Linked DNA regions of Homo sapiens. The protein of the gene in region 1 binds, or shares a complex with, the protein of each later gene. Each region holds a gene or a part of one and is shown in the gene's direction. Other genes may lie near its edges.

What was found.
Region 2: EXOSC8 (region 1) and EXOSC4 share a complex: the UniProt entries of both Homo sapiens proteins name them as parts of the RNA exosome core complex.
Region 3: EXOSC8 (region 1) and EXOSC6 share a complex: the UniProt entries of both Homo sapiens proteins name them as parts of the RNA exosome core complex.
Region 4: EXOSC8 (region 1) and EXOSC2 share a complex: the UniProt entries of both Homo sapiens proteins name them as parts of the RNA exosome core complex.

Annotation. Positions count from the first base shown.
Region 1 is NC_000013.11:36,996,709-37,003,806, forward strand, and holds the start of EXOSC8 (exosome complex component RRP43), read left to right. Parts: upstream 1-4,077; 5' UTR 4,078-4,097; coding exon 4,098-4,114; intron 4,115-5,564; coding exon 5,565-5,601; intron 5,602-5,779; coding exon 5,780-5,843; intron 5,844-6,225; coding exon 6,226-6,299; intron 6,300-7,098. Other genes in the region: ALG5 (dolichyl-phosphate beta-glucosyltransferase), read right to left, coding at 2,527-2,592. UniProt on the Homo sapiens protein: Non-catalytic component of the RNA exosome complex which has 3'->5' exoribonuclease activity and participates in a multitude of cellular RNA processing and degradation events.
Region 2 is NC_000008.11:144,074,153-144,081,159, forward strand, and holds EXOSC4 (exosome complex component RRP41), read left to right. Parts: upstream 1-4,519; 5' UTR 4,520-4,576; coding exon 4,577-4,747; exon of another isoform or gene 4,748-5,790; coding exon 5,791-5,997; exon of another isoform or gene 5,998-6,089; coding exon 6,090-6,449; 3' UTR 6,450-6,496; downstream 6,497-7,007. UniProt on the Homo sapiens protein: Non-catalytic component of the RNA exosome complex which has 3'->5' exoribonuclease activity and participates in a multitude of cellular RNA processing and degradation events.
Region 3 is NC_000016.10:70,246,263-70,249,102, reverse strand, and holds the end of EXOSC6 (exosome complex component MTR3), read left to right. Parts: 3' UTR 1-2,325; downstream 2,326-2,840. UniProt on the Homo sapiens protein: Non-catalytic component of the RNA exosome complex which has 3'->5' exoribonuclease activity and participates in a multitude of cellular RNA processing and degradation events.
Region 4 is NC_000009.12:130,689,133-130,696,782, forward strand, and holds the start of EXOSC2 (exosome complex component RRP4), read left to right. Parts: upstream 1-4,647; 5' UTR 4,648-4,659; coding exon 4,660-4,781; intron 4,782-6,359; coding exon 6,360-6,461; exon of another isoform or gene 6,462-6,474; intron 6,475-7,650. UniProt on the Homo sapiens protein: Non-catalytic component of the RNA exosome complex which has 3'->5' exoribonuclease activity and participates in a multitude of cellular RNA processing and degradation events.

The DNA of each region.
Region 1 (7,098 bases):
TGTATGAAAGGTATTTTAGGGTAAATGAATAGCTGAGGATGAGATTTCTTTCATTACAAAACTCTAGGTAATAAATGAAGGATACAATGAGAATATTTCACTTTGCAACCCGCAATGAAATAAAGCATTTAGGTAATGATCCTCAATGACTACTAAAACCATTAGGCTGATGACAAACTTTATAAACTGGTGGGTCTGGCTGGCAACATTTGAAACCACAGATCCATCTTAACACCAGAGACAAATGGCCATTACATGACTCCTGATGAGACACAAGAGAAAGGAAGAAGCATCACTCACAATTTTTTCTTGATTAAAAAACACATCGAGTATGTATGTGATCAGGTCTCTCCATCCTAACTACCAGTTTATAGAAAATTTGAGATAGAAGATGTTAAAAGGCATTAAGGGGATGCAATCAAAGAAATCCAAATTGTGAGAAGTTCTACAGGACAAATGATCATATTAAAGACAAGGAAAAAGGCCGGGCGCGGTGGCTCATGTCTGTAATCCCAGAAGTTTGGGAGGCCGAGGAGGGTGGATCACCTGAGTTCAGGAGTTCGAGACCAGCCTGGCCAACATGGCGAAACCCCATCTCTATTAAAAGTACAAAAATTAACCGGGAGTGGTGGTAGGCGCCTGTAATCCCAGCTACTCAGGAGGCTGAGGCAGGAGAATTGCTTGAGGGCAGAGGTTGCAGTGAGCCAAGATCACACCACTGCACTCCAGCCTGGGTGACAAGAGCCAGACTCCGTCTCAAAAAAAAAAAAAAAAAAAAAAGACAAGGAAAAGAAAAAAAGGGGGAGGAGAAACTGTCAACTGATTAAGAGACTCAAGACATCAACAGAGTACAATGTGTGGCACTTGTTTGGATCCTGATTGGAACAAACAGACATATATACTGAGACATATATGAGACAAGTGAGGGCAAGTGAACTGAGGGGGCATTTGAAATCACAGAATAAATTTAAATCTGTGACCACTTTATTGTGGTATTTTAAAAAGAAGGACCTTATCTGTTAGAAATAAATGCTGAGGATTTAAAGATAAAATGTCTTCGAGTTGTTTTAAAATAATTCAGAAAGGAGGTGAGACTGTGAGTAATGGAGAGTGGATACATATGAAGACAGGATGAGGTTTTGAAAAATTATTTTTTTAATGATTTCTTGCTCTGGCATTTAAAAAACCTAAGTTTCACTAGTTGTGCAACATTTGAGTACACGAGCTCATTTCTCCAACATGTTTCCTCACCAGTAAAATAATGCTAATGATAACATATATGTCACAGTGTTAAAGATTTAATAACTCCTATTAAACCAAGTGCAACACAACATATAGTAAGTACTACAATCAATAAATGGTAGCTCTTATCACTTCAAGCTAGTGGGAACAAATACCGTCAGTACAATCCCATAAAATCTGTGCAAAAGACCCAAAGTAAGGCAGCTTCAATCTAAGAATGTGTGAATCCACTCCCCGCCCGCACCCCGCCAAAAATCAATCAATCAATCAATCAATCCTGGTTTGCTCAAAAACTTGAAAAAACAAAAAAGCCCTAAACCCTGAAATCTCTACTAGTTAGGGCAAGAGAGGACTCCTCTCTCACCCAGATACTATCAACAAAGAAGTAAGGATGCATTACATTTTATCTAAACTGTAAATTTATACAACCTCTGGAAAGATGGCAGAGTGGCCTTCCTGGCAGTGCTGTCTAGGTGGCTAATCTGAATGTCAAGGAAGCTGAAATCCTCTCCACTTACTAACTAGAGGGCAGGCTCATTCCAAGGTGTGCGGGAGAGAGTTCGCCAATTTTCTACCACTTAACAATCAGCAAGTGTTTACAATGTTTTTGTGTTTCGAGAGCAAGGGCAAAGACAATCGAGTTTGCATTCTATCGTCCTGCCTTGTTTAGGGGCAGTATATTTAGGGTGCTTAATTCTGGGACACAATGCGACCCCGGACAAGGCGCCTGAGGCCTGTCTCTCTCGCTCACCCTGCGTCCCTAGTGGGTCTCATCGATCCACGCATTTATTCCCATTTGTAACAGATGGCTGCCGTCAAGGCTCCGTCACCCCTATTTGCTTAACCACATCAGCCAAGGGAGCAGGCTAGGGAGCACACCCCTTCTGGGGGCTCGAGACCTCCCTGGGTGGAGCAGAACTGCAGCGGCTGCAGGTCCCGGAGAGTCTGGGAGAGGTCGAGGTTGACAGAGGAGGTGGGTAGGGGGCGCGGGCGCCAGGGGCGATGGAAGCGGCGATGATGCCAGGCCGGGTGGGTGCGCTCCAGTGTGAAAAAACTTACAAGTCTCTGAGCACACAAAGAGATAAGATTCCAAGGGAAAATTAAAGAACCGAAGAAAAGGAGAGTGAAACTCCAGGAAACTCCGAGGTCAGGAATTTGGGGGAATCTAGGGGAAAAGGGACTTCTCCGAGAACTGGTAGCGCGGAGGAGGGGACGCCTGAGGAGCCGCAGTCTCCAGGAGAGCGGTAAGCCCCGGCCTGCGCGGGTTCCCATCCCTGTTCTCACCAGTACGAGGGCTGCGGCCGCCAGCGCCGCGCCGAGCACCGCCAGCTGCAACAGAAGCGGAGCCATTCTCCATGCCGTGGCAGCCCGCCCAATCCCGCACCTCCACACAGGCGGAAGCGCGCCCGCGCGACCCGGCCCCGCCGCCAGAGAGGTCGCGCCCGCTGGCCGCAGCGCCCCCGCGTGGCGAGGCGGAGAAAACGCCGCTCTCGTGCCCTCGGCGCCCAGTCGGTGGAGAGGAGCGCTAGGTTCCACAGCGGGGCGCCAGGTTTATCAAGTATGCAAGACGTCTACTTAATTTGAATTTCAGATTAAAAAACTAATCATGTTTTTAACAGCCTTATTAAGATAGCCACATACCATACGACTCATCCAGTTACAGGTTTCTGGTTTATTACATTAGTTTTTATAAACTGTGGTAAAATAAAAAGTTGCCATTTTAATCATTTTAAGTTTACAATAGTGAGTGGCATTAATTACATACATACTGTGCAACCATCACCACTATCTATCTGTAAAGCCTTCCCAGCTCCCTCCAGGTTCTGGCAACAACTAATTGCATGCTCTATTTGGGGCATACTCATGCTTTAAAAAAAAAAAAACCCACAAAAAAACAAAAACAAAAAACAAAAAAACCACGCTGTGTTTATCAGACATTCAAATTTAACGTGGTATCCTGTATTTTATCTGGTAACCCCACCTAGGAGGGAGATGGCAGCCTTGAGCACGACACAGTCTACAACACAAGGTGATGCTTAGGAGCCCTCAGCTCCGGGACCTGCAGAGCAGAACGTGGTGCGGACAATGAGCGCACAGAAAGTTCAGGTTTCTCGGCCGAGCGCCGTGGCTCACGCCTGTAATCCCAGCACTTTGGGAGGACGAGGCGGGCGGATCACAAGGTCAGGAGATCGAGACCATCCTGGCTAACACGGTGAAACCCCGTCTGTACTAAAAATACAAAAAATTAGCGGGGCGCGGTGGCGGGCGTCTGTAGTTCCAGCTACTCGGGAGGCTGAGGCAGGAGAATGGCGTGAACCCGGGAGGCGGAGCTTGCAGTGAGCCGAGATCGCGCCACTGCACTCCAGCCTGGACGACAGAGCGAGACTCTGTCTCAAAAAAAAAAAAAAAAAAAGTTCAGGTTTCTCATGTGTTGGAGCACGGAGCCCTTGACCAGTGAAGAGGCAAGGCCAGGGCTGAGCCTAAGTCACAGGCAGAAAAAAGACGCAGAAACATTGGAATAACGCTCCACACGCACTGCTTGATTCTGCGCTAGAAACCCTGTTATCTCCGAACTGTTGGTGTTATTCTGAGTCACAGCACCAGCTCTTTTATAAAGAGGGAGACCCGCTCCTTCTTTAACAGCAGATTCGTCAAAATACGTCCAAGGCAAGGAAACCTAGAAAGGCGTCTGGGCAGGGGAAAGTCGATGCGAGGGCGGGCCAGGGACCTTTCGTCGCGTCCCCACCTTGGCATTTCCCGTGGCGTGAGCGGCCCCGGCATCCGTGTCGAAAGTGCGGCGGCGGAACAGGCGCGCAGGAGAGGAGCGGCGCAGGCGCAGACGCGCGGGCGGGAAGATGGCGGCTGGGTTCAAGTGAGTGTTGGCGGGTGGCGGGTAGAGTTCTGTACCCTGGCGGACGGCAGCTTCCTTTAACTCTTAGCTGGGATTCTCTCACCTGGAGGCCGACCCCGTTGGGGTGCCATTTCCTTCCTCGTCGAGGCAGACGATGGGCGGGAGGACCTGGAGGTTGTCACAGTGAAAAGAAAGGGCTTCTTCCTCAGTGAGACGGGAGATGAAAGGACTCTGTAGAGTTCCATACCCGCTGCGAGCGCTCGTGAGCGTGGTGTGTAGTGAACGTGCAGTCCCAGGAGACATAGTTGTAATCTTTTAAAGATTGTGGCCGGGCGCGGCGGTTCACGCCTGTAATCCCAGCACTTTGGAGGACGAGGCGGGCGGATCACCTGACGTCAGGAGTTCGAGACCAGCCTGGTGTACATGGTGAAACACTGTCTCTAATAAAAATATAAAAATTAGCCGGGCGTGGTGGCGGGCGCCTGTAGTCCCAGCTACTCAGGAGGCTGAGGCAGGAGAATCGCTTGAACCCGGGAGGCAGAGGTTGTAGTGAGCCGAGATCGCGCCACTGCACTCCAGCCTGGGCGACAGAGTGAGACTCTGTCAGAATCAATCAATCAAGATTGTTGCATCAGAACCACATACCGCCTGCTTCTCCCTCTCCCGTAATTTATTTCTAAAAGGATCATGCCTCGTTTGGAAGGTTTTTGTGTGTGTGAAGCCAGTGGACTTTCTTAAAGTTTTTAAAAAATGGATAAAATAAATAGGATTCCAAAGGAAATCCATTATGTTGAAATAGTTATCTATGAGTATAAACTCCGAAGACACGATATAGTAGTATATATACTTGGTTTAAAATTAACCTTCGTAAACAAGATCTAGTGGCGAGACTAGTAGTAACTCCTGGGATTTCAAAGTAACGGTGAGCCTGAACATACCTTACACAGCTAAAGGGTGCAAACGAAAACATCTGTGGTCTCCGTGGTTGTTAAAGTTGCAGGTACTGCTAATGTTACTATGGCTTATTGCTTACAGTCATAATTGAAGAATATGCTAAATTTCACTTACAGTGAAAATAAAGATGTACCTTTTTGTTTCCTGAGTTATCTAGTAAGAGGTTAACTATTCATGATCACTAGATTATTAAAATAATCTTTTTTCATGATCACTAGATCACTCTGAATCCTTGTTTCAGAGCAAGAACGACATGATTCTTTTGACACAGATTGAGCTTTTAAAGAGCTCACTCAAAGGGCTTTTAGACGCCAATCTTCTAATCGTTTATGGCAGAGTTAAGGACAGCAATTGAATGTGATTGCTACTACAAGGATTTTTACTTTCTAGAATTACTTTTAGTTAAAAAGTTGTGGAGATTTATGCTGCATCACCACACTTAAGATCTTTGCCAATTTCTGGATTTATGTTAAGATTCATCAGTTTATCTCAGATATATTTTTAACACGTGTTTCAGAACCGTGGAACCTCTGGAGTATTACAGGAGATTTCTGGTGAGTAAAGGTTATGTACATGTTATGCGTTTTGATAACGAGCTGCTTTTAAAGATGAATTTCAAGTAATTTAAATTAATCCATTTGAAGTAACATTTAATGTGTGTGTAAAACTTGTGATAGATGTGTAAAATATGTAATAGGTATAATCTATTTTTATATAAACATATTTATTTAGAAAGAGAACTGCCGTCCTGATGGAAGAGAACTTGGTGAATTCAGAACCACAACTGTCAACATCGGTAAGGATGTATTTTCCACTTTCAACTGTATGATATTCCCAAGTTTTAGTCTATGAACCAGCCAAACAGTTTTTCACCCAAATTCTTTGTCTAAAGGATTTGATGATTTTTTTTGTCAAGAGATTTTTATCCGTACAAAAGCCCTGTAACTAAATGAAAAATGATTAACACAAATTCAAGGACAGGTGAATAATTATTTAAACACTAATTTAAAATAGTTATGTAAAAATCAATTATTCTAACTTGAAATATTCATAAGCAACTGAGAGGGGTAGCAAGATAATCGTACACAGCAAACTAAAACACTTAATTTTAATTATTATGTGGATAATTTTGTAGCTGTTTTCCTTTTATGAACCTTTCATTTTGCTTATCTTTTCAGGTTCAATTAGTACCGCAGATGGTTCTGCTTTAGTGAAGTTGGGAAATACTACAGTAATCTGTGGAGTTAAAGCAGTAAGTCTAAATATGTCCTATTGAGATTTGAGTTACAAAGTTAGCTTTATTTATTAGATTGTAATATACACCTGTAATTCTACTCTTGATTTGGTAGTTGGGTGTCAATTTTTAATGTTTAATTTCCCAAGAGCTTTCACTATGAGTGTTAGATAATATGACCCAAGTTTAATGACTAAGTGAACAATTGTCAAATGTAGCAAAATGAAACAACTTTTAAAATCTGAGTCACCATTTTAAAAAAATTGTTATATCATTTGAGACATTAACAGATTTTTGGTGACATCCTTTTAGCCAGTGATGACATGTAATCTGTGTAAATGTGTAGAAAATTGAAATTGTTGAAAAGAAAAATTTGAGGGAATACTGGCTACCATTTACTGAGTACTTGCTATGTTCCAGACACCTTTTTAGGTGCTTTACAGAATTATCCACTTTAATGCCTATAACAATCATTTGTTACTTGTCTTCACCTCCTGTTTTACAGATGACTTTCAGTAACCTGTCCAGGTACATAAGACTCATAAGTAAAACTTAGACATAAATCTGACTCCAAAGCCTGTGCTTCTTTGACTACAGTATACCCTGTGTTATTTAACCTCAGTTGAGATTCTTCTTTCGTAAACCTGGAGTGATGTATAACAGTAAGATTTGAGAACTTGCTCCTTGTCAGGTTTTATGCCTGGGATTTAACAGGTCTATCTCATTTGGCCCTTATTAACAGTCCCTAGGAGTAGACACTATTTTCTTCCCATTTGACAAGATGAGGAGTTTAAGGTAAGAGGTTAAATAACTTGCC
Region 2 (7,007 bases), on another chromosome or scaffold:
AGTATTTACAGAGTCATATATTTCGTAAAATTTGCAAAAGTGAAATATTTTAAACACAACCAGCTAAAACTGTCTCTTCCCCCTGCAACCTGCCATCAGTTACCCCCATCAGTTACCCCCTCCCCTGCTGCATAGAGCTGGAGGGGGTGTTGTGGGGTCCAGCTCCCGGGAGGTTGAGTTGAAGCTACGTTTTGCTTGGGCTTAGCGGGAACAGTCACTTCCCGATACAGTTATGCTATCGCTAGTCATTCTGGTGTAGAAATGGCTTCCGGAAACACCCACCTCCCTCGGCTGCATGTCATGACACAACAAGCTGATGAAATTGGCCAAGTGCCAACTCAAAGAGGATCTAAGATTAGTCACAAACAAGAAAACCCAAACTCAAATTCATTTTTTTGGGGCGGGGGGTGGTTCTGGGTTTTTTGGTTTGTTTTTTTGAGACAGCCTGGCTCTGTGGTATGGGCAGGAGTACCGTGGCACGATCATAGCTCACAGCATCCTCCAACTCCCTCGGCTCAGGCCACCCTCCCGTCTCAGTCTCTCAAGTAGCTGGAACTACAGGCGTGTGCCACCATACCCAGTTAATTTTTAAATTTTTTTTTGTAGAGATAGTGTGTCACTATGTTGCCCAGGCTGGTCTCGGACACCTGGCCTCAAGCGATCCTCCTGCCTCAGCTTCCCAAAGTGTTGGATTACAGGCACGAGCTACCTCACCCAGCCAAGCCCTGAACTGTTATGGCTCATATGTGGAAGAAATTTGATAAGCGGTTTCCTCCAATTTAATGACAATTCTAAAAATGTACATATTACCCAAAGGAGCTTTTACCTGAAAGCAACTTAATTATTAGTAATAAAATTAAATTTTGATCAAACATGTGAGAGGAGAAACTAAATCATTTTCTTGGTTTTTGTTTATTTGTTTTTTGTTTTGACAGGGTCTCATTCTGTTGCCCAGGCTGGAGTGCAGTGGTGTGACCACAGCTTACTGCAGCCTTGACCTCCTGGGCTCAAGTGAGCCTCCCACCTCCACCTCCCAAGTAGCTGGGACCACAGGTATGCACCACCATGTCCAGTTAATTTTTTTTTTTTTTTGAGACAGAGTCTCGCTCTGTCGCCCAGGCTGGAGTGCAGTGGTGCGATTTCGGCTCACTGCAACCTCCGCCTCCTGGGTTCACGCCATTCTCCTGCCTCAGCCTCCCGAGTAGCTGGGACTACAGGTGCCCGCCACCACGCCCGGCTAATTTTTGATATTTTTAGTAGAGTCAGGGTTTCACCGTGTTGGCCAGGATGGTCTCGATCTCCTGACCTCGTGATCTGCCCGCCTCGGCCTCCCAAAGTGCTGGGATTACAGGCGTGAGCCACCGCGCCCGGCCCATGTCCAGCTGATTTTTTGCATTTTTTGTAGAGATGGGGTTTTGCCATGTTGTCCAAGCTGATCTTGAACTCCTAGGCTCAAGTGATCCGCCTGCCTCTGCCTCCCAAAAGTGCTGGGATTACAAGCGCGAGCACCGCGTCTGCCATATTCTTTCTACATATAGAAGGTTACGTTATAAAAAGGTGTTGTCATCTTAAGAGAGCATCAGAGAACGCATCAAAGAAATGTAGGGGAAACCTGTTGGAGTCAAATATGTCAGGCAGGTTTTCTGCATTTTGTGATGTTTGTAGTATTTGACAACTTTTAAAATGTTTGTTATGTGTTGGGACTTCTTTTCTCACTATTCACTTAGTTTTGGATATACAATTTTGTCTTATGTTTCAAAAGAAGACTGCATAGAAGAGTTAACAGCAGGCCTGAGAAGCTCTTCTTCACAGGCAAGTTTGAAGAGTGGGTGTCTGGGAACTTGGGTTTTTCATGGTTCCCCCACTCTCTGGTAAGCGTGTCTCACTGTGCCTAGACTGTTTGTACAAATATGGCTCATGCTGAACACCTGTGTTGCTTCTAGGGGTCTGGAATTTGGGCACATGCTTGGCACAGACTGTGTATGTGACCAGCCCTCCATAAAACCCCAGGGCGCTGAGTGTCTAAGAAGCTTCCCTGGCAGACAGCATTTCACACACACGGCTCCAGCTTCTTCCCGTGGAGTCCACCAGGAGAGGACGTGGCCAGCTCACGCCTGATTTCCTGTGGAATTCATCCCATGCACCTTTTCTCTTTGCTGATTCAGACTTATATCCTCTCTGTGTAATAATCTTAGGCGTGAAGACAAGTCTATAGTGAGTCCTTCTAGCAAATCGGTTACTCTGGAGGGGTCTTGGGGATACCTCTCACGGCCCCTGAATTTGTATAAGCTTTAGGCCTCCAAAATTTGAATCGACCCATGTGTGTACCCTAAAGCTGGAGTACGAGGGTCAGAGAACCAAAGGTGTGAGGTAGGAGTGGCCCCATAATCCTAAACCTGTAATGCTGCCAGGTTGGAGGCCTGGTTCCTGAAGATGAATACTTCCACCAGGGAACACAGCAAAGGTTCCACTGATCTTGAAGTAGCGGCTATCACTGGCCCACTTTGGACACCTTAGGCTGAAGACCAACATCGTCCTCATTGTCCTGAGTTGCTACGGTCAATGCTACACAACTGGGGTGGGCAGTCCACAGAGCTCCCTGGGCGTCTAGTCTTCCCGCATGCGGCAAGGACTGTCAGTGGACAACCCAGTAATGGCCATGCGTGGTGGCGGGAGGCCGAGGCAGGTGGATCACCTGAGGTCAGGAGTTCAAGATCAGCCTGGTCAACATGGTGAAACCCCATCTCTACTAAAACTACAAAAAAAAAGTTAGCAGGGCATGGTGGTGCATGCCTGTAATCCCAGCTACCTGGGAGGCTGAGGTAGGAGAATCGTTTGAACCCAGGAGGTGGAGGTTGCAGTGAGCTGAGATTGTGCCACTGCACTCCAGCCTGGGTGACAGTGAGACTCCATCTCCAAAAAAAAAAAAAAAACCTTAGCCAGGCATAGTGGCAGGTGCCTGTAATCCCACCTTCCCAGCTACTTGGGAGGCTGAGATAGAAGAATCACTTGAACCCTGGAGGTGGAGGGTGCAGTGCGCTGACATTGTGCCACGGCACTCTAGCCTGGGTGCAGAGTAAGACTCCATCTCAAAAAACAAAACAAAACAAAGAAACAAACGAAAAAAACGATGACTCAGTAAGAACAGGGACAGTAAGAGCTCAGACTGAAAGGGGAAAAGGGCTCCACAATAAGCAGAGTGGCTGTAGAGCAGAGGGTGGGGAATCCGGGGTGGCAAGTGGCAGAGGGTGGTGACCCATCATGGCCTCAGACCAGCTGCAGCAGCAGGGTTGTGGCTTGCTCACTCACTCTCATGCCTCAGTCTTTCAGGAGAGCTTAACCACCTTGGAGGGGATGCTGTGACAACTGAACTTGGGCCCCTGCAGCAGACCACATTTCCCTAGCCCGCCTGCTCTTCCTACAGTCTAATATTGACACTCCTCCCACTGAAGGGTGGGGTCCCTGTCCTCATCCCTTAAGCCTGGGCAGATCTGTCTGACTGCCTTGACCCACAGAGTGTGGCAGGAGGGACACTATGTGACTTCTGAGGTTAGGTCCTAAAAATACCATGCACATGTTGTCCACCTTGTTGTCCTGGAAGGCTACCCTTGGAACCCAGTTGCCATACTGCAAGGAAGCCCTGGTTGCATGGAGAAGCCACATGTAGGTGTGCTGCCTGACAGGCACAGATGAGGTCCTGGCCCGCCACCAGCATCAGCCACCAAAGATGTGAGGGAGAAAGCTTTAGGATGGCTGCAGCCCCAGCTACCATCTGGCAGCAACTGTAGGAGAGATCCTAAGTGCAAACTATCTAGCTGAGCCTAGATAACCCCAGATTGCAGCACATAATAATAGAATGATTTTTATTATTTGAAGCCGCTGAGGTTAAGTGGCAAGAGATAAACAGACATACAACCCCTCTCTGGAAAGGATGAGGAAATCTGCATCCTCAAAGGGAAAAGGGAGGCCCACCTGACTGCAGTGTGGAAGCTCGGTGTAAAGGGAGGGCATGAGAGGACTGGAGAGGTGCCAGGTGTGGACCATCCTGGGACACCAGCCTGGTCACTTTCCTAGGACCGCTCAATGCCTTCTCCTGTCAGTGTCGCACCCCACTGGGTTCATCCTTCCACTTTCACACTTGGGGCGCGGGGAAGGGCTGAATGCAGGCACCACTGGTCACGAGGGCGTGACTGGGCAATTCCTCCTTCGGCGGGCGCCCACCTCCTGGCACCCGTGGCACAGCTCCGGGAACGGCTGCGGGCCCAGCCGCTGCTTCCCCGATAGCGCCGCCGCAGTTCCCCGGAGACAGAAGTAGAGCCGGACCGCCGGAAACCGTAGATCCGGGGAGGTCGGGGCCGCGGTGAACTCCAGTTCACCAGGACAGGAAGTGACAGCGGAACGCCGGAAACCGCAGATCCACGGAGGTCAGGGCCGCGGAGAGCTGTAGTTCCCCGGAACCGGAAGTGATGGCGGACCTCCGGAAACCGTAGATTCCGGGCGGTCGGAGCCGCCGGGAGCTGTAGTTCTCCCGCGGCTCAGAGAAGTAGGCAGAGAGCGGACCTGGCGGCCGGGCAGCATGGCGGGGCTGGAGCTCTTGTCGGACCAGGGCTACCGGGTGGACGGGCGGCGCGCCGGGGAGCTGCGCAAGATCCAGGCGCGGATGGGCGTGTTCGCGCAGGCTGACGGCTCGGCCTACATTGAGCAGGGCAACACCAAGGCACTGGCTGTGGTCTACGGCCCGCACGAGGCGAGTGGGCGCGCGGGATGGGGAATCGTGTGGCCGTGGGAGCTGCGGGGCAGCCGGGCTGAGCGCTGGCTCGGGGACTTGAGGGGCAACGGCCGGCGCGCCTCAGTCTACACAGCCGATGCTCAGCACCGCATCTCACTCGGAGTAAACGCAAGTCCTTAGTGTGCTGCGCGGTGGTCCTGCCTTTCTCATCGGCCTCTGTCCCTGCGCCCTCCTTCCTCTTTGCGGCTCTTCAACGTGCTAGGCACTCCCCCACTCGCTCCCTCTCCTTTCAGCTCTACTCCGACGTCACTCCTTCCCAGACGACCTTATTATCCACGCGGTACTTCTCGCCCTACAATAAACCCTTTGTTTTGTGCACCTACAATCTCAAATGCCTATTTTGCTTAAGCATTTTCCCCTTTGTTTCCTCGCTGGAACATAAGCTTCCTAAAGAAAGGAACTTTACATAAAACTATCTGGTTTCATTACTGTGCTTCCAGCGCTGTAACTGCCTGGCCAGCGAAGGTATTGAAAGAGTGTTTGCTTAGCGCATGAGTGTGGGAGCTCTGCTTTCCAGGCGGAGGGAACCAGAAGGGCGAAGACCACGGTGGTGAAAACAAGCAAGGCACTTATGCAGAGCAGAAAGACTGCTGGTGGGGAAAGAGGGGATAACTCCAAATCAGGTTGAGGGTTCCCGGGGAGGTGAGGACTTAGGGTTTTGTAGAGTAGGGAAATGATTTGGGATCTTATTTCATATGTAATGTGAAACCTTTGTAAGGTAGTTAGGATTTGAGTGTGTAGGTGAGACAGAAGCAGCGTTGATGTTTGTAAACTTGGGTTGGCAGGGAATGGGGCAAGGATGGACACAAGGAAGCCAATTAAAAGGTGCCAGAGGGCGACACATGCAAGACAGAGAGCGCAAAACAGGGGGCTTTGTTTTGGAGGTAACGCAGTTGCCCCTTGCTGAGGCATTGAAAGTGGAGGGAGAGGCAGACCCACAGAGGACAGTGGAGTGTGAGCTGGAAGGAGTGGGCCTGGCTCATGTGTCTGTCCTCTTCCAGATCCGGGGCTCCCGGGCTCGAGCCCTGCCGGACAGGGCCCTAGTGAACTGTCAATATAGTTCAGCGACCTTCAGCACAGGTGAGCGCAAGCGACGGCCACATGGGGACCGTAAGTCCTGTGAGATGGGCCTGCAGCTCCGCCAGACTTTCGAAGCAGCCATCCTCACACAGCTGCACCCACGCTCCCAGATTGATATCTATGTGCAGGTGAGCCAGCTGCAGCCGTCAATCCAGGGAGGGAAGGGTGTGATGGGGTTGGGGAGGGAGTCTGATAGACTGACACCCTGGGTTCCCTGCAGGTGCTACAGGCAGATGGTGGGACCTATGCAGCTTGTGTGAATGCAGCCACGCTGGCAGTGCTGGATGCCGGGATACCCATGAGAGACTTTGTGTGTGCGTGCTCAGCTGGCTTCGTGGACGGCACAGCCCTGGCGGACCTCAGCCATGTGGAGGAAGCAGCTGGTGGCCCCCAGCTGGCCCTGGCCCTGCTGCCAGCCTCAGGACAGATTGCGCTGCTTGAGATGGATGCCCGGCTGCACGAGGACCACCTGGAGCGGGTGTTGGAGGCTGCTGCCCAGGCTGCCCGAGATGTGCACACCCTCTTAGATCGAGTGGTCCGGCAGCATGTGCGTGAGGCCTCTATCTTGCTGGGGGACTGACCACCCAGCCACCCATGTCCAGAATAAAACCCTCCTCTGCCCACACACCCCTCACTGTACGTTATCACCTAACAGCACTTCAGAGCCATGTGAAGGCTGGCAGAGCCTGGTCTGGTGCTGGCTCCTGGGGATGATTAGGGACCCTCGCCCACACATGAACGGCCTATCTCTGTGTAGCCTGATTCAAACCCTGAAGAGAACAGTGGATTAGGGGGTTTCTGTAGGGGAGGCCCTGGGTGGAAAAAGCAGCATGTCCCAGTAAGGACTCAAGGCAGCTGAGCAGGAGGCAGGGCCTGGCAAGATGAGCCAGGCCATTAGACTGAGGAATCTGTTACCCTTATTCCAGCACATCGGGGGCCCTGAGCAAAGGGCTGAGGAAGAACTCAGCTGGCTCTGGGTACCCACCCTAGGGATGTGGGGGCCATGTCCCACAACCTCTGGACTATGGTTTGGAGCCCCCTGGGCTTTTCCTGCTGCTTACCTTGGGCTCTGAAAGTACAACAGCCAGGCATGGTGGCTCACGCCTGTAATCCCAGAGCTTTGGGAGGCTGAGGCAGG
Region 3 (2,840 bases), on another chromosome or scaffold:
TTTAGTTTTGAGTAAGATTTTAAGTGATTAAATTATGGTATTGTTGTGTCTGGAATATCTGATATTAGGGTTTTTTTTTTTTTTTTTTACAGTTTTTGATATGCTTTATTTTGGGTATGTAGTTTACAAAATATAAAGGAAATATAAGGAGTGTTCTCTTTTTTTTTTAAATAAAAAGTGTATTTTTAACTGGGCATGGTGGCTCACTCCTGTAACCCCAGCACTGTGGGAGGCTGAGGCTGGTGAATCGCCTGAGTCCAGGAGTTTGAGACCAGCCTGGGCAACAAGGTGAAACCCTGTTTCTATCAAAAAAAAAAAAAAAAAAAAAAAAGGAAAAAAAATAAGTCAGGCATGGTGGTATGCACCTGTAGTCCCAGCTACTTGAAGGCTGAGGCAGGAGGATCGCTTGTGCCTGGGAGGTTGAAGCTACAGTGAGCTATGGTCAAGCTACTGCACTCCATTATAGGCAACCCTATCTCAAAAAAGCAAAGCAAAACAAAACATTTTTCCCCTTGATTATAGAGGTTTGAGAAAAATTTGAGGGAAGATTCAGAAAATTACCTGTAACTGAACAGAATGCCACCAGCTTGGGCTTATTCTGCATGCATAATTATGAACATTTTCCCAGCTCTTGTGAAAATTCTCACATTCATAGAAAGATAGATGCACCAGTAAAATAAATACCTGTAAATACGATAATAATTTCATAATAATATGCTTCACCTAGATTTACCAGTTACTAATATTTTGCCAGTTTTATTTTCTCACACACTTTTGTTGAGCATCTGAAAACCATACACATGATGACAGTTCAACCCATAATGTTTTAGTTTGCATCTCCCAAGAATAAGGTTTTTCTTCTGTATAACAAGAATATTGTAATCATACCTAAGAAAATGAATTTTATTACATATGTGTTCTATATTCAAATTTCTGTAATTACCCCTAAGATGTCTTTTAAATGATTTTTAGCATTGATAGTCTGTGCCTGTGTAGATTATAACATTGGCTATTGCAAAATAATGGTTTTCTTTTTCTCTTTTTTTTTGAGACGAAATCTTGCTCTATTGTCCAAGCTGGAGGGCAGTGGCACAATCTCGGCTCACTGCAACCTCCGCCTCCCAGGTTCAAGCAGTTCTCATGCTTCACCCTCCTGAGTAGCTGGGATTACAGGCAGGTGCCACTGTGCTCTGCTAATTTTTATATTTTTAGTAGAGACGGAGTTTCATCGAGCTGGCCAGACTGGTCTTGAACTCCTGACCTCAAGTGATCCACCTGCCTCGTCCTCCCAAAGTGCTGGGGTTACAGGTGTGAGCCACTGCACCCAGCCTAAAATGATGGTTTTCTGATTCTAGCATTTCTTTTATAAGATTGCTATGTAAAGCACAGCTTTTCTTTTTTTAGGGAAAAATGTCTTTTAACAGCTGCAAAATAAATATTCTTTCAATGGAATGACAATTATTATTTTTGCCATATATTTATTTTAAAAATTTATGTATAATGGTAACCTGAGCCTGCATGTTATTCATGTGTGGTGCCATACTGATCTTTAATTTTAATGTGAAGCAAGTACTAATATAGTAAAGCATAAATTATATAAAATTTGCTTTATATTTTGGATTGCAAATTAATTGCTGTACTTTATAGAAAAGTTTCCCAAATCCGTTTTACTTTTTTGTATTTGAAATTTAATCACAGGTGGAATCTTAAAGAGAGCATTTAGGGATATTGTAAACAGATGTTATTAAGGACTAATGTTAACAAACATTGAAGAAGAGAAAACAGTATTTGTTTTTAGCTTAACATCTTAGTGGAGTGAAATATTTTCAGTATATTTATTTTATTTATTTATTAATTATTTTTTTTTTTGAGATGGAGTCTGGCTGTATTGTCCAGGCTGGAGTGCAGCGGTGCAATCTCAGCTCACTGCAACCTCTGCCTCCTGGGTTCAAGCGATTCTTGTGTCTCAGCCTCCCGAGTAGTTGGGATTTACAAGTCAATTTTTTTTTTAACTAAAACTACAGAATCTATTTTTCTTGGTCTCATACTCAGTTTTTTATGTAGTCACTTAGTAAATAACCTAATTTGCTTGTTTTCTCCACACTAATTTTAGGGTGAATTCCTCATTTCGCTTTTCAGATCATGGGGTGAGGGGGATGGTTGTGTGTGTGAGGAACTGAGGAATCAGATGGAAAACAATGCCTCTGCTCCTTTGAGTATAATCAGTGATATTTGAGGTTCCAGGGTTAAATGCTGCATTTTTATTTCTGACGTTCGTACCTTAAAATATTTGAAGAAAATAAACTATTTCATTGTTGTCAGAAATGTAGTTCTTTTATTTTCCTGCCCCTCTCCCCTTTCTAAGTTTCTAGAATGTTGAGTAGGTAGAACATAGATGCTCCTTTTAGGATCTTTTGCTGTGGAATGGTCCACAGGTGAATGGCAGTAATATCTTAAAATGATTGGCCCCCTCTCTCTTTGTTTCCATCAAGGATACAGTTGATATATTAGTTGGATGGCATATAGATCATACTCAGAAACCTTCGCTCACGCAGCAGGTATCTGGTAAGTCTTGCAGCCTATACCAGTTATTTAAATACTGTCGGGGAGGAGCAGTGGTCCCCCAGTGACCATCTATCAATAACATTTCTTTAATAATGCAAGAAAACTAATTCAGAGAAATGTTATATTGTAAATGAACATTACTTGTTAGCTAAATATATATTTTCAGAAGAAATTACTAGTAGGTGGGTAGAATAAGTACAGACAGGACTTACCCAAGTTATTTGTAGTTTGTACTGGTAGGAAAAAGTATATGGTAAGAATATATTGCAGTGGCA
Region 4 (7,650 bases), on another chromosome or scaffold:
AAATATTTTATGGCTGCCCTGTGTGCCAGGCCTGGATCTAAGCATTGATATATGATGAACAGAATAGATAAAGTCCCTGTTTTCAGCAATGCATGTTCTAGTGGGGGGAGACTGCAATCAATGAACAAAAAAAAAAAAAAAAAGAAAGAAAATTGAAGCCCAGGCATGGTGGCTCACACCTGTAATCCCAGCACTGTGGGAGGCCAAGGTGGGCAGATCACTTCAGGTCAGGAGATTGAAACAAGCCTGGCCAACATGGTGAAACCCCGTATTTCCTAAAAATACAAAAATTAGCTGGGCGTGGTGATGGGTTCCTGTAATCCCAGCTACTCCGGAGGCTGAGGCAGGAGAATCTCTTTAACCCAGGAGGCAGAGGTTGCAGTGAGCTGAGATCGCGCCATTGCACTCCAGCCTGGGTGACAAGACCAAGTCTCTCTCTCAAAAAAGAAAGAAAAGAAAAGAAAAAGAAAAATCAGTGACAAGAAGTAAAACAGGATCAAGGGATTAAAAAAAAGGACTGGAAAGTTATTCCAGATAAGGTGATCAGGGAAGTCTTCTCTGAGGAGGTGATGTTTGAGCAAGCCATGAGTGAGGAGAAGGAGCCAGCCACACAAAAGCCTGGGAGAAGAGAATTCATGCAGAAAGAGACCAGAGTGAAGGGCCCTGGAGTGATGAGAAGCTTGGTGCTGTGGAACCGAGGGGAAGCCAGCTAGTCTTGAGGCAGGAGAATAGGGTCTGGAGGCAGGGAACATAAGGCTGATTCACACTGACTTTCTAGAACTAAATCAAAAGGAAAACCCCAACTTTCCACGTCCAAGTAACCAAAGGACCAGAGGCTACTCCCTTTGCAATCCCAGCTTTTCTGTGTGCAGATGAAAAACTGAAAGTACCTCTGATTGCTCCCTTCCCACTACCAGTCAGGCTGGTAGGTGGCCAAGTCTTCATTTGCATGGGAGTATAACTTTGTAACTTCACTTCAGCCTCTGATTGATAACTTTCCACAGCCAATCAGACATTGGCGTAGGGTGTAACTTTTAACTTCAGCCTCTGATTGGCCACTTTCCACAACCAATCAGACTGATCACGGGCCACTCCTTCATTTACACAGGGCGTACACCAAATAACCAATGGGAAACCTTTAGAGGGTATTTAAACCCCAGAAACTTCTGTAAGGAGCCTGTTGAGTTTCTTTGCTTGAGCTGTTCTTGCCCTGTAGAGTGTACTTTCGTTTTCAATAAATCTCTGCTTTTGTTGCTTTATTCTTTCCTTGTTTTGTCTGTATGTTTTGTCCAAGACGCCGAGAAGCTGGGCACCCTCCACCGTTAACAGTCCGGCTGCAGCATAGTGAGTAACGCAGTGGGTTAGGACGAGCGTGAGGTCAGAGACAGGCAGGAGTCAAGAAGTGCTGGAAGCAGAGAAGTGATTTAATCTGTTTTTAAAGCTCTCTCTGGCTGCTGTGCGGAGATTGGATGATAGGAAGGACAAAAGTAGAATTAGGAAGACAAGCTAGGAGGTTATCTCCCTGGTAAGAGATGCCGTTGATCAGCCTGGGGCAGTGGCTGCGGAGATGCACAGATGTGTGGCATCAGTGAATCTTAGACCTTTTCCGCCATTGAAATTACATAGGGAGTTAAAACACGCACAGACTTCTGGACCTTACCTTTGCAGAGCCTTGTGAAAGGCAAATAAATCTTGGGGCCCCAAAATCACTAAGCTAAAGGGAAAAGTAAGTCAAGCTGGGAACTGCTTAGGGCAAACCTGCCTCCCGTTCTATTCAAAGTCACCCCTCTGCTCACTGAGATAAATGCATACCTGATTGCCTCCTTTGGAGACGCTAATCAGAAACTAAAAATACAAAAAATGCAACCATTTGTTTCTTTTTTCTTTCTTTTTTTTTTTTTTTTTTTTTGAGACGGAGTCTCACTCTGTCGCCCAGGCTGGAGTACAGCGGTGCGATCTCGGCTCACTGCAAACTCCGCGTCCCGGGTTGAAGCCATTCTCCTGCCTCAGCCTCCCGAGTAACTGGGACTACAGGCACCAGCCACCATACCCGGCTAATTTTTTTTTTTTTTTTTTTTTTGTATTTTTAGTAGAGACGGGGTTTCACCGTGTTAGCCAGGGTAGTCTCGATCTCCTGACCTCGTGATCCGCCCACCTCGGCCTCCCAAAGTGCTGGGATTACAGGCGTGAGCCACCGCGCCTGGCCTCAACCATTTGTTTCTTATCTACCTATCACCAGGAAGCCCCTTCCCAGCTTCGAGTTGTCCAGCCTTTCCAGACCGAACCAATATTCATCTCACATATGTTGATTGATGCCTCATGTCTCCCCAAAATGTATAAAACCAAACTGCGCTCCGACCACCTTGGGCACAGGTTGTCAGGACCTCCTGAGCTTGTGCCACAGGCACATCCTCAATCTTGGTGAAATAAACTTTCTAAATTAACTGAGACCTGTCTCAGATATTCGGGGTTTACAGCCTCAATGCCTAAGGAATCTATACTTTTTACAAGCCCCCTGGGATGTGCTGCTTCGTCTCCGGGTACCCACTTGTCTACTGGTCGTAAAGGGGTAAGTGTGGCCGGGCTTGGTGGCTCATGCCTGTAATCCCAGCACTTTGGGAGGCCAAGGTGGGCGGATCACTTGAGTTTAGGAGTTCGAGATCAGGTTGGGCAACACGGTGAAACCCTGTCTTCACAAGACAAATACAAAAAATTAGCCGAGCCTGGTGGCATGTGCCTGTAGTCCAAGCTATTCAAGAGGCTGAGGTGGTAGGATTACCTGAGCCCAGGAGGACGAGGCTGCAGTAAGCCATAATCGTGTCATTGTACTCCAGCCTGGGTGACAAAGACTCTGTCTCGAAAAAAATAAAAATAAAAAAAGGTGCGTGTGATGATGCAGAAAGAGGAGCACTGGGGATGGGAGAGGGGGAGTCCCTGTCGTTTTGGATTCTAGTCCCAGTTACGGGTCTGTTTGGGGGGCTCGGTGGCCCCAAGTGATCATCAGGGATAGCAATGCCTATCTCGAAGATGGGCTGAAAGTGAGGAATACATAACATAGTATTTGTAAAGCACTCAGCAAAGGACCAGCCGAAGCACTCGGGCTATTTCTGGTAAAGGGTGCAGGCTCTGGGGTAAATCGCGTGCAGTTGGAACACACATCGGCTTTGCAGCCATCTGCTAATGTGAATTCCATTCCTTTTGGGGCCTCGATTTCCTCCTCCATAAACTGGTATCCACAATGCCAACCTTGTGAACGCTGTGAGAATGCGCGGGGTAAAGGCGACGTCTCTCCCTCCCGGGAAGAACTTGGATGGTGTCAGGCCTACACTCTCGCTCCGCCTAGGGCCGCTCGCTGGGCCTGGCTCCCCGGCTGCCGGGCTACGCGAGCTCAGAGGACACCATCGCCCTCTTATGGCCGCGGCAGGACTGGACCGAGGGGCTGGGCTCTAGTGCCTTCCTCCAGGCACGGCAGAGGGCGAGGGTCTGGCAGCCCGCTTACCCAGGGCCTCGGGGCACTAGCATTCATGTCATCGACTGCCTGGCAGGGCTGGCTTTCTTAAGTGTGGTCGTGAGACTTGCTTAAGTGGAAGAAATGCTGTCGCTTTGGAGATTTATAAAACAATTGGCTCGATGGATCTTTCTTCAGGAGGCGGACTTGGTTTACCGGCTTTACTGACCACAGCTGATGCCAATGATTTCATTTAATCGTCTTTAGAGTCCCTGTGCATGGGGAGTTACCATCCCCAATTAGTTTCTTGTGAATGCAGGGCAAGGAGAGGGAGAGGGTAGTGGGGGACGGGGAGAAGGGGCGAGGGGTACCCTCCTATTAAAACGGAGCCGCAGAAAAACCCACAGAGACATCCGTCTGTTCCCCGCTGAGTCCTTAGAACAGCGCCTGGCACACAGAGAGCGCTCAACTCGCTGTGTAACTAAATGCAAGCCAAGATCTTCGCATTGTGTGTGCTCTTCCCTTCCCTACCAAATATACCTGGCTTGCAAGGTTTGACCTGTTTTCTTAGACGATTTTTAACTTGTTTCCAAAAGAAATATTGGAGTAAATTAGCTTGTTCAAAGGAGTCCTTATGAAAGGACAGAACCAAGTGAGAAGTATCTGGAGCCCGGTTTGGGGTTATAGATGATGATGTTGAGCCAGCACCCACGGGGCGGCCGCAATGTAGAATCCTGGCGCTACTGGGAACCGTGTGGAAAGGGGCTCTTCTTTCTGTTCAAATAGTGTTTTCTGTAGATCCCATCTCTCCATCCTCCTGAGCTCTCTCTTACAAAATATCGGATTTCAGCAGCTTAGAATTGGACAGAAACTCAGAGGTCCGTTTCTCAATTATCTCTAACCCTGGTAAACAATAAATGGGATGATGAGTACAAGACAGTTTTGGTAAAAAGTCACACGCCACACAACGTGAGATTTTATTATTCCACGGGTGCTTCCTTGCCAATAGTAGACATGGCAGCTCGGCTCCCTTCCCTTCGGGTTCGCCTTATTGTTGCCAATTGTAAACATGGCCTCTAGGCCGTGAGTTCTCATTGGCAGCTGCTCTGAGTCCCCGCCCTTCCCCGCCCCTCCGAACGCGGCCTGGAGTTGTGGAGTCGGATATCGCAGCTCCCGACTGAGCTGCGCCTGCGCAACTCATTGGCGCCAAGATGGCGATGGAGATGAGGCTTCCAGTGGCTCGCAAGCCTCTTAGCGAGAGACTGGGCCGCGACACTAAGAAACATCTAGTGGTGCCGGGGGATACAATCACTACGGACACAGGATTCATGCGGTACGTGGGGACTTGGGGGAGTCGAGGCTTCAGAGAGCGGCTTCAGGGCTCTCTGCACGTGGTCCAGGCCTCGTATCCCTGTGTGTGTAACTCCCCGCGGGACCCAGGGCACTTCGTCTGAGCATCCTACACACCTCGCTTCCGAGCCTCGTGCTTCTTGCTCCCTGCATCTTGTGTGTCCCCGTCTGCATTTGTCTCAGCTCCCTGAAACCCTCCACTCCTGACCTCCGGTGGCTGTGACTTTTGGGTCTTCTGCCTGAAGTCCAAATCTTTGATCCTTCCTTGTGGGAGACCTGGAAAGCTGGGGAGGGTTAGGTGCAGGCTCTTTTCCAGTTTTCAGCTCTCTGAGGGGACGGTGGGCGTTCTTGGCTGCCTCCTCTTCAGTTTAGAATCCGTAATTGTTCGATCTTAGGGCAAACAGTTACATTGTGCTGCATGCACCCATTTATACACATTTTGAATCTAAGGGGTGTAGTGCAGTGTATTGTGGTTAAGAGGGAAGGCTCTTGAGTCAGACAGTTGGGGTTCCGGTCCTGCTACCATCACATCTTATTAGCGGCATTGCCTCTCCACGGTCAGTTTCCTCATCTGTAAGATAGTGATAATAACAGTATGATACGGTAATGAGGATTAAATGAGACAATTATGTAAGAAAAGAAGTAAAACCAGCCATTATATCATCATAGATAACACTAGTGTTTCAACCTTTATTATTATTATTTTTTTACTTGTATATGTACAAGGGGCACAGCATTCATAGCATTGCCCTTTAACCTGTTAGTTTAAGGTTAGTGGATACCAGGAAATTTTTTTTTCTTTTTTGAGACGGAGTCTGTCTTAGATCAGTCGTGCGATCTCGGCTCACTGCAACCTCTGCCTCCTGGGTTCAAGTGATTCTCCTGCCTCAGCCTCCTGAGTAGCTGGGATTACAGGTGCACGCCACCATGCCTAGCTAATTTTTGGTTTTTTTTTTTTTTAGTAGAGACAGGGTTTCACTGTGTTGGCCAGGCTGGTCTCGATCCCCTGACCTCAAGTGTGATCTGCCCGCCTCGGCCTCCCAAAGTGCTGGGATTACAGGCATGAGCCACCATGCCTGGCCCCTAGGAAATCTTAAGATTCATTCTTTCATTAATGCTTTCAACATATATTTTGTGCAGTTGGGTTATTATGGCAGAGTGAAAAATCTCTGTCCTGGTGGAGTTCTAACAGGGAGAGATAGATAATAAGCGCAATGAATAAGTTATTCAGAATGTTAGGCAATAATGCAATAGGGAAAAAAGTGGAGCAGGGTCAATGGTATGTGGGGGGAATGGTGGCAACAGGGTGGGCTGTGTTTTCAATGGCACAGTCAAGGTAGGCCTGCTGCAGAAAGTGACACCTGAGCAGACCTGAGTGAGAGGAGTGATGTCCAAGTAGCTGTCTGGAGAAGGAGCACTGAAGGCAGAGGGAGCAGCCAGCACAGAAGCCACGCTTTGCAGGGGGAGCCTGTTAGCTTTGAGGAACACGTTGTTCTTGAAGGGAGAGAAGTCATTTCGAGTTACCCTCGTATCCTTTCTTTGTATCTTCGCCTTGCATCAGGGGCCATGGAACGTATATGGGAGAAGAGAAGCTCATTGCATCTGTTGCTGGCTCTGTGGAGAGAGTAAACAAGTTGATCTGTGTGAAAGCTTTGAAAACCAGGTGAGAACAAAAGGTGTGTATTCCCTTTCTTGCAGCATCAGGTTGTACAACCAGGCTTTTCCTGCCCCCTCCTTATCCCCCACCCCACCCCTGCCTGCCCTGTCATGCTGTAAGTCTGAGGTTTTGACCATGACTGTAGGTGGGGTGGTGCAGATCAGTGCAGGCTTCAGAGGTTTCCCCATGTTATGTCACCACTCCAAGCCTTGGTTACCTCCTCTGCAAAGTGAGTATAATAGCATGGCCTACTTCATAGGATTTTCTCTTTTTTTTTTTTTTTTTTTTTCCGAGATGGAGTCTTACTCTGTTGCCGAGGCTGGAGTGCAGTGGCGTGATCTCGGCTCACTACAACCTTCGCCTCCCGGGTTCAAACAATTCTCCTTCTTCAGCCTCCCGAGTAGCTGGGATTACAGGCGCCCTCCACCACGCCTGGCTAATTTTTTTCGATTTTTAGTAGAGACAGGGTTTCACCATGTTGGCCAGGCTGGTCTCGAACTGCTGACCTCTGATGATTTCCCCCCACTTGGCCTCCCAAAGTGCTGGGATTACAGGCGTGAGCCACTGTGCCTGGCCTAGGATTTTCTTTAGAATTCAGTGAGATGGTGCCTGTAAAGTATTTAGCACAGAGCCTGATACCTAGAAGCATTCAATGAAGGTTAGCCCCAGAAAGCAAGCCAGTGGGGTTGGAACAGAGTGAGTGAGGGGGAGAGAAGGGGCAGATGTAAGCAGAGAGCTGAGGTGGGCGGGCGTGGGCCTGCCTTGTAGCCAGAGTAAGCATTTTGGCTTCTACTTTGTGTAATCTGGGAAGCACTGGAAGGGGTGGAGCAGAGGAGGGACTTGATCTGGACTTAAGCTCACTCTGGCTGCTGATGGGAGATTGAAGGGGGATAGGGCAAGCTTAGGGAGGTGGATTAGGGACCATACTCATGATCTGAAGTGATGGTGGCTTCAACTAAGGTGGGAGCAGTGGAAGGTGGAGGAGTGATTGGAATCTACACAGATTTTATTTTCCGAGTGTTTTTTTAAAATCATGAAAAGCTGTTGGGTTTTGTATTCTTTGGGCTTTACTGTGCATAGGACCCCGTCAACTGTGAATAGAAATAAGTTTACTTCTTCCTTTCCAATTTGGATGCCTTTTATTTCCTGCATATGTTTTAAGGGTAGAGCCAACAGGTTTTGCTACTGGACTTGT